2 linked regions of the Homo sapiens genome follow. The protein of the gene in region 2 purifies or fractionates together with the protein of the main gene of each other region. This does not show direct contact. Each region holds a gene or a part of one and is shown on either strand. Other genes may lie near its edges. The genes, in order: UBE3B and MAN1A2.

The links.
Region 1: the proteins of MAN1A2 (region 2) and UBE3B purify together in Homo sapiens (affinity purification with mass spectrometry; one large-scale study listed by BioGRID and IntAct). This does not show direct contact.

The regions. Positions count from the first base shown.
Region 1 is NC_000012.12:109,483,896-109,487,916, reverse strand, and holds part of UBE3B (ubiquitin-protein ligase E3B), read right to left. Parts: coding exon 3,936-4,021; intron 1,906-3,935; coding exon 1,846-1,905; intron 1,447-1,845; coding exon 1,342-1,446; intron 1-1,341. UniProt on the Homo sapiens protein: E3 ubiquitin-protein ligase which accepts ubiquitin from an E2 ubiquitin-conjugating enzyme in the form of a thioester and then directly transfers the ubiquitin to targeted substrates.
Region 2 is NC_000001.11:117,366,262-117,370,248, reverse strand, and holds the start of MAN1A2 (mannosyl-oligosaccharide 1,2-alpha-mannosidase IB), read right to left. Parts: upstream 2,801-3,987; 5' UTR 2,066-2,800; coding exon 1,764-2,065; intron 1-1,763. UniProt on the Homo sapiens protein: Involved in the maturation of Asn-linked oligosaccharides. Progressively trim alpha-1,2-linked mannose residues from Man(9)GlcNAc(2) to produce Man(5)GlcNAc(2).

The sequences.
Region 1 (4,021 bases), on a different chromosome or scaffold from region 2:
AGCAGGTCCACCTGGAAGGGACCTTGGAGACAACCTTGGAGACCACTGAGTTCAAACCTCAAAGCTCATCGACAGTAAGAGAGGGGAAGCAGCTTGTTCAAGGCCACGTGGGAAATGAACAGCAGAATCAGGACTGAATTTCACATATTCCTGGCTCCAGAGTCAGGGCCCTTTTTCTCCTGACGTCTGTTTCTTTGCATAAACTTTTTTTGTTTGTCCAAAATAGAAGAGCTTCTCCTCAAAGAGCAATCTGTTGTGGAATGTACACATAGAGAGCAGATAAACAAGGATCTGCCTGGCTCGCGTGCAGGTAGGGAAATACCCTGCTCACTTGGCCCTAAGGCATTCTGGTGGACTCCCAGGGCTCCGAGGAACATAGTGTGGAAACCCTGCGCTGAGCCATGTCTCACCTGACAAGCCAGGCATGGCAAGAGCCATTCCTGAGCAGCCAAAGAGGGATGGCTGGGAATGGATTATTACTGGGGTTGGGGGCGGTCTGGGGACTTTCGTTCCATTACTGAGCTGCTATCTGTGTCCTTGCCAAGCCTCTGTCCCTGAGACCTCTCTATCCTTATAAGCAAAGTGGAAGTGGCTCCTGTGTATGTCTGCTCACACCCCTGTCCATCCTTTTCAGAACACTGAAGGGGGTAGGGGAACACAGGACCAGGCTGGGCTAGTGGCAGTACCCCATTCCTCTTGCCACTGTGACTGGTTCAGAGATGAACCCAGGATTCACTGGACCTACAAGAAACCTGGATTTTTGAACTGGTCGGGAGGCCTCTCCTCCCTTTAGTCAAGACAGAGTAAGAATATAAAGTCAAAACTGCTCGTTGCCATGATTACAGCAGGAAAGGACGAGGTGACCCCAAAAGGGAGCAGGGATGAGAGAAAAGAATGAGAGGGAGAATCAGAACCCCCTAGCTCTCCTTACTCTAGCTGCCACGTTACTGAATATATTCTAGAGCACAACGTTCTCTTCCTTGCTTAACTGGTACGTGATACTAGCTGTGCTCACGTTCGGCTTCTGTACTTTTAACAAGAGGCCTGACTAGTATAATAATGTAGATCATAAAGTACTGATTACATTAAATGAATGGGAAGGAAAGTGACAGATTCCCTGCCATGGAGGCTGTGGCGTGGCAAGCAGTTTAAGGGTCCAACACACACCAAAGGAGGGCTCATATTGATAACAGAATCAAAATTCCTCTCTTCCAGAACAGTGGCTCAACTAGCAACTCTCGTTGATAGTGACTCTGAAAATACAGACTAAAGTCTACAGGTGAAAATGACATACGTACTGTTTCTGGTTTTGCTTTTTTTTTTTTTTTTTTTTTTTGTTACCTTGAGCTGCTTGAGAAAATCACAGCAGTACCACAAAATGTTCTTGATCTGTTGAATCCAAAGGAGGGTGAGGTCCTTAGAACAAGCCAGGGACACATACCACACCTATAGGTGGGAAAAAGAGGAATGTCATGGGCTGTTATAGAGATCATATCACTTGTGCTCTAACTGTTGGAACTGGACCTATTAGTTAGGTCCAGTGCCAGATAAAGCAGTGGACCTGAATGGACAAATAAGCTGTAAACAGGACTTATTTTAACACTAAACGCAAAGACAAAATAGCCTAGTAAGAAAATTTACTATCCTGTGTTGTGGCAAGAGCAGAACGTAGCTACCTGGATCATGAAGAAACTAAGGAATCATTTGTACTTTGGTAATGTTTTCCATCCACTACTTATTTGCATTTGTGTGTGAATTGGTCCTAATATTCAACAGGAACTTTCAGAGCCCAGTAGGTTGGCCCTTAAGAGCTTGTGGGAGACACTGCGGCTCCCGTCCACTTACCTTAGGCTCATTCTCAGCATCCATGCTGCTCAGGATGCTGCGACACAACTTCTCAAATCTCTGCAAAGAGACACACTGGGGGTTATACATTCCCACAATCCATCAAAAAGTGAAAACAAAGAAAACAAGCCTTCAGCGGGTACCTGGCACGTGCAGGTATTATGCCAGGTGATTCACACATAATCACATGCAGTTCCTTCCTACAGATGAGGACACTGAAGATCATAAAGACTAAAGGGTTCTCCAACTGGTGGCCCAAGAGCTGGAGGAACCCTATAGAAATGTTTTAGAAACTGGTATACTTCACATAAAAACCCAAATTGAGGCTTCTTTCAAAAAACAGTATCAATCTGGCAAACTGGATTTGGATTCCTGCAGGCCTGCTGCTGTCTCCTCAACTGTGCTCTCCAGTTTACCTTTTCTTAAGCACCATGGATACTGACTTTTGCCTCACAGCCAGTAGCCAAAGGCTGCTGTATCATCACTTTTATCCTGTAATGCAAAAGGAAGAAAAGTGGAAACTAGAAAACAGGTTCCATTTTGGCTATACCAATCCTGGATCCGCCCTTAAACCATGTGATATTGGGCAAGCTGCCCTACCACCCTGAGCTGCAGTTTCCTTCTCTGTAAGATGAGGTTCACCTCCTCCAGCTTATCTGTCCTCATCTACGTAATCATGTGTTCACTGCCTGCATAGTCCTCCCTCTCTTGCTGGGCTATGAGCTCCATGAGCGTAGAGATCTTGCCCGTCCTGTTTCCTCCCAAGGGCCCAGTGCCTAGAGAGGGTTGGCACAATGTGAAGCTTAGCAATAGGAATGCCTAACAGCCTAACAGCTGGTAACTTGGAGACATGCCTCAGTGGCATTGTTAGTACTATTACAGATAACTAGCTGCTTTTCTGGGATTACACTTTTCAGGCTGATCATTCTAATCCCTAAGGTGCAAACTGGCACCTTTTGTATGATTTGCAGGATATTTAAAAAATTTCAAATTAATTGCCAAGATTTACAAATTAGAACATTGATGGTAGCTCACGCCTGTAATCCCAGCACTTTGGGATGCTGAGGCAGGTGGATCACTTGAGCCCAGGAGTTTGAGACAAGCCTGGGCAATAAGGTAAAACCCTATCTCTACAAAAAATACAAAAACTTGCTGTGCATGGTGGCACACACCTGCAGTCCCAGCTACTGAGGAGGCTGAGGCAGAAGAATCGTTTGAGACTTGGGAGGTCAAGACTATAGTGAGCTGTGATAGTGCTACTGCACTCCAGCCTGGGCGACAGTGAGACCCTGTCTCAGAATATGAAAGAATGAATGAACGAACATTGAGCATAAAAACTCAGATCTTTGGCATCTCTTTAAAAAAAAAAAAAAAAAATCAGAGGCTGGGTACAGTGGCTCACGCCTGTAATCCCAGCACTCTGGGAGGCTGAGGCGGGCAGATCACAAGGCTAAGAGATCGAGACTATCCTGGCCAACATGGTGAAACCCCATCTCTACTAAAAATACAAAAATTAGCTGGGCGTGGTGGCACGAGCCTATAGTTCCAGATACTAGGGAGGCTGAGGCCGGAGAACTGCTTGAACCCGGGAGGTGAAGACTGGCAGTGAGCCAAGACTGCGCCACTGCACACCAGCCTGGCGACAGAGAGAGACTTCATCTCAAAAAAAAATCAGAGTATGAGTCCACCACCGAGGTGTGTAGTAGCTGCTCCCCGTGGATGGGGCAGGCCACAGACCCTGCTACTCCTTTTGATGTCCTTACCACTGCTGCCTGTCAGTTACCGTTTAATATGATTTGTATTTTGTATTATGTTTTATCTCATATATGTTTTTTTTACTCATTTACCTAAACTTCCTGACTCTTGCATGCATCTGAGTTCAACTTGTGCTTATAATGGTCAATGTGAAAAGATTCCTAAAAGCACTGGGCATAATCCCTCCAAAACAGGTCCCAAGAAAACAAAAGGGACAGGATGTGAGGGTGACAGTAATTACCTCATAAAGCTGCTATAAGAACTGAGTTAATATCAATAATTATAAAAGATCTGACATATGGAAGTATTATACATGTTTGCTATTATCGTTTTACCTCATTATCCTCTTTGATTCTGAATAGGAACAGCAGTTTCCTGGCAATCTTGAAAATACAAAGTGCACTTCTTTTAGTGGACTCAG
Region 2 (3,987 bases):
CAATAACCAATCTCTCATTCCAAACTCAGGAACCCAATAGTTTTAGATAGCTAAATACATATGCATATATATCCAAGGGCTTCATAAATTTAAGAATTCTTGTTTAAACTATTTATACAGACTGTTAAAAATGTGAATAAAAGGCACATATCTGTATTTTCATTCAAATTTCATATTTTAACTCCATTTACTGAGAATTTTTGTGTAAATGTTTTTAAACTAAAATGTGGTCATATTATTTTAAACTTTTAGACCATTCAAAATGTATTTTTTAAACTGCTTAGTACATGACAGATACTATTAATAATAGAGCTAAGTAATGTTAATGTGTGGCTGTTGTGAAACAGCTCTAAAAACAGCCTTAACACATTTTTTCAATATATTTCATATGTTATACAAATACCATGCGAAATAAGATTTTCAAGGAAAACTACTTTCACCGTTAATTTTTCAGTAACATATTTCACAGATCATATTAGTGTTTTCTTAAAGTCACAACAAGCAAAGTGCAAAATTAAAGAAACAAATACAGGAGTACAGTAGTCGAAAATGGCAAAAATTCCAAATTAACTTAGTTACAAAAGAATGGCATGAAACAATATTAGAAGTAACTACTCCATAAAATTCATCCAAAAGTCAAAGAACCATCACACAAGTAATGAATTAACTAGGTTGAGAAAAAAAGAAAAACCAGTTCTCATAAAACAGTGCATTTTCCCAAATATTTAATGTAGGCTTACACGTGAACCTAAGCTTTTTCGGTGCTTGACAAAAAGTTAAAACTATCATCAGATGGGAAATGAATTCAAGCACATGATTTTTTTTCCCACATACTCAAGAATTATTTTAAGAAACAAGGAAAAGATGGCAGGTTTAAGAAAAGTCAACTACTTTCCCAAACTCTTGAGTACAAATATAAAAATTATAAAAATTGTAACTAGAGCTCCCATTTTATCCTAGTTTGGCTATGCTCTCCCCAGAGCTCACTTTAGATTTAGTGATCTGAAAGAATGTGAACCCCTTAATCAACCAAATTCCAATAGTTGCTTGACACAGTCCATCTATTACATTAAAAGAGAGAGCAAAATTAAGTTTCACAAAAATAAATCTTGTCTACAAGCCTCACAAAGTGCAATAACTTAGGATTCAATACCTTTTAACTTAACTGATTTCATATACAGCACCAACACACATCCCCAAAAAAAGAACAAAAATCAGGATATTTTCACGTTAAGAAATGACAGGTATATTCTGCCCACGTTTGTCATCCTAAAAAGCTGACTCACTACTAAGCTTCAACTACAAGCCAGAAAACGAGAGCCCTCTGGGAGAGCACACCCAAAAGAGCTGTCAAGGTTCGATGCTTTGATTTCACATGGTGGCACAATGACTGACTCCAACACGTTATTAATAAATGCAGGCACAGCTTATGTCACCATTTCTTTAGGTTAAGTTTTCATACCTCCCTTCCCAGATGTCCACATTAGACACAACTCTGAACGCAAATGTTTTTCTTATATAAAACCGAAGAGAAGAACGACTTAGGTAGGACTCCAGTCCTACCAGTCTATGGACTCTACCATAGACTGGAGGTAGAGTCCCTCCAGTCTATGGTTTTATTCAGCCAGTCTTGAAGTAACAATACAATATTTATGACTCGAAAAATTACATTTTACTGCAAGAAAAAAAAAAGACAGATTCGATCCAATCACCGTACCTTGCTCTGCCAAATGTTAGTACCAGAACTTCTGAAATAAACAAACCTGTGTCTATGTTCATCGGGTCCATGGATCAGGAAGACTCCGGGGTTTTTAGCCCCTTTACCGGCATCTACATGTGGAATTAACACATCTTCTAAACCCAAATCAAAGCGTTTGTGTTTTGAAGAGTCTGGAAGGAAAAAGAATGCCCCAAAACACAGAGTGATGAAGGCACTAAGAATAAGGAGAAGAATAAACTTCTCAGAAAGTCTCAAGGTAGCCCTGTGATGTGGGAAGGAAGGCGGCCCCAGGTTCAGAGGTGGTATCCTACGTCCAGAGAGGGGCAGCAGGGCTGGGGTAGTCATCGTTTACGCTCTTGGAGAGAATACTTTAGAAAGTTCTCATCTTATGTCAAATGTAGAATACATTGAACTGTCTTCAAAATCTTGGCCAAAATGGGAAAACTCAATTTTGCTCCTCTTAAAGGACTGTTGTGCTTTTTAAGAGGGCACGTCATTCACGCCCATCCATTCCCACTCAGAAACGTGTGTGACCTCCCCCAAACGATCACAAGTTTAGGTCCTGCGATATCCTCTTCAACATCTGTACTTCATCGGATTATTACAAGCCTCCTCTTCATTCCTAGGGGTAGATCAGGCAAGCCACACTGCAGAAAAGCTGCAAGGTGGGTTCTTCCATTCCTGCACCTCAGTGAGATGCTCAAACGTAGTCTTCCGCCCCGAAAGGGAGACTGGCGACATCCGAGGAGTTGTAGAAGGTTCACTTGATCTCCTTCGACGCTTCTATTCCAGAATCTCTTAACCTTAGCGGTGGAAAAAATAAGGGTCTCCCACGGACGTCTGCAAACAGGGAGGAAGGTCTCCCACTTCGCTGGGAAGCCGAAGCAGCGGCGCTGGGCGAAGTAGCAGGAAGGAGTTCTCGGCCGCCCGCGCTTCCCGGCGCTGCCTGGCAGGAACCTGGCGCCCGGCTGAGTCCCGCTGCTGCCCACTCGACGGCTGGCGCGAAGGGCAATAGCGTCCGAAACACCTGAGTCCGGCCAGCCGCCGCGGCCGCCGCCGCTGTTGCTACCGCACGGGTCTGTCAGGGAGCGGAACTTCCTCCTCCGGCGGCCACTGAGAAGCCCCGGCGTGTCCTGGGGGAGGGGAGGCGCGGCGGCCGCCCCCGCCGAGCTCCTCCTCCTCCTCCTCCTCCTCTTCCTCCTCCTCCTCCTCCTCTCCGCGGCCGGTTCAGTGAACCCCGGCGCCTGCTCCCCGAGCTAGGCCGCCGGCCGCAGTGGCCGAGCCCTCGCGCCTAAGAAGCCGAGCCGGGGCCCACGCTCCGAGAGCCCGGGGTAGGCGCCGGCTCATTCCTCACTCAGCCCTGGAGCGGCGGGAGGGCCTGGGCGCGCGGGAGCAGCCGCGCCTCGGGCGGGCAGAGGTCGGCCGCGTCTCCTTCCTGCCCGGCCGCGGGGGCCTCCTCCGCGCCGCCTCCGGTGGCTCGCAGCTGCTGGCTCTGGCGGCGGCTGCCAGAGAGGCAGCGCGCCCACGCCGCTCGGGGCTGCGGCCCGGTCCCCGTACCCTGCCTCCCCAGGCCTGGTGAGCGCAGCAGCTGCTGGGCCGACACCCGTTGGGCTCACGCCGGAGAGGAACCGGAGGGCGGGGGCGATGGGACCCGGGCCGGCCTACCGGCCCCGGCTCGCGAGTGGGCGTCCCCGGGCGGCGGAGTGTGAGGTGCGCGCGCACGCTCCCGGCTCCGCTGCCGCCGCCCCTCCCCCACCCAGCCTGGCTGCCCGGGCTCCGGCCTCGCGCCGCTGCCGGCTCCAGCAGCCCGAAAGCGTACTGCTGCCGCCGCCGTCTGAGCGCGAAAGAAGAGAAGGTCGCCGATCTGCGCTGCCACGAGAACTTCACCGGTGCCCAGGGCCTTGCCACCGCCAGTTCGTGGGGTTGACCCAGCGTTTGGGCGAGAGGGAGCGAGGGGTTGGGTCGCGAAGGTTTCGCTGAAATGTAGTGTCACCGGAGTTAATGGCTTCTGATGGCTTAGGTTAACGTTTACTGTGATTCTTTGGAAGTCTTGTCTTCAGCGATAGACCGTCAGGCCCGAGGATTCAGCAACAGGGTCTCAAACTTCCACGCAGCAGCCCATGCTCACGTTATTGGGCCCCCGAGGCTCGATTAATAGAGCACCAACATGTGCCATGTTACGTTTTTAAAATAAAGTGGTGACCCTGCTCCTTCAGCTGGGCTTCCTTTCAGAGGAATCTAGGTACCCCCGATATGACAGGCGTCTC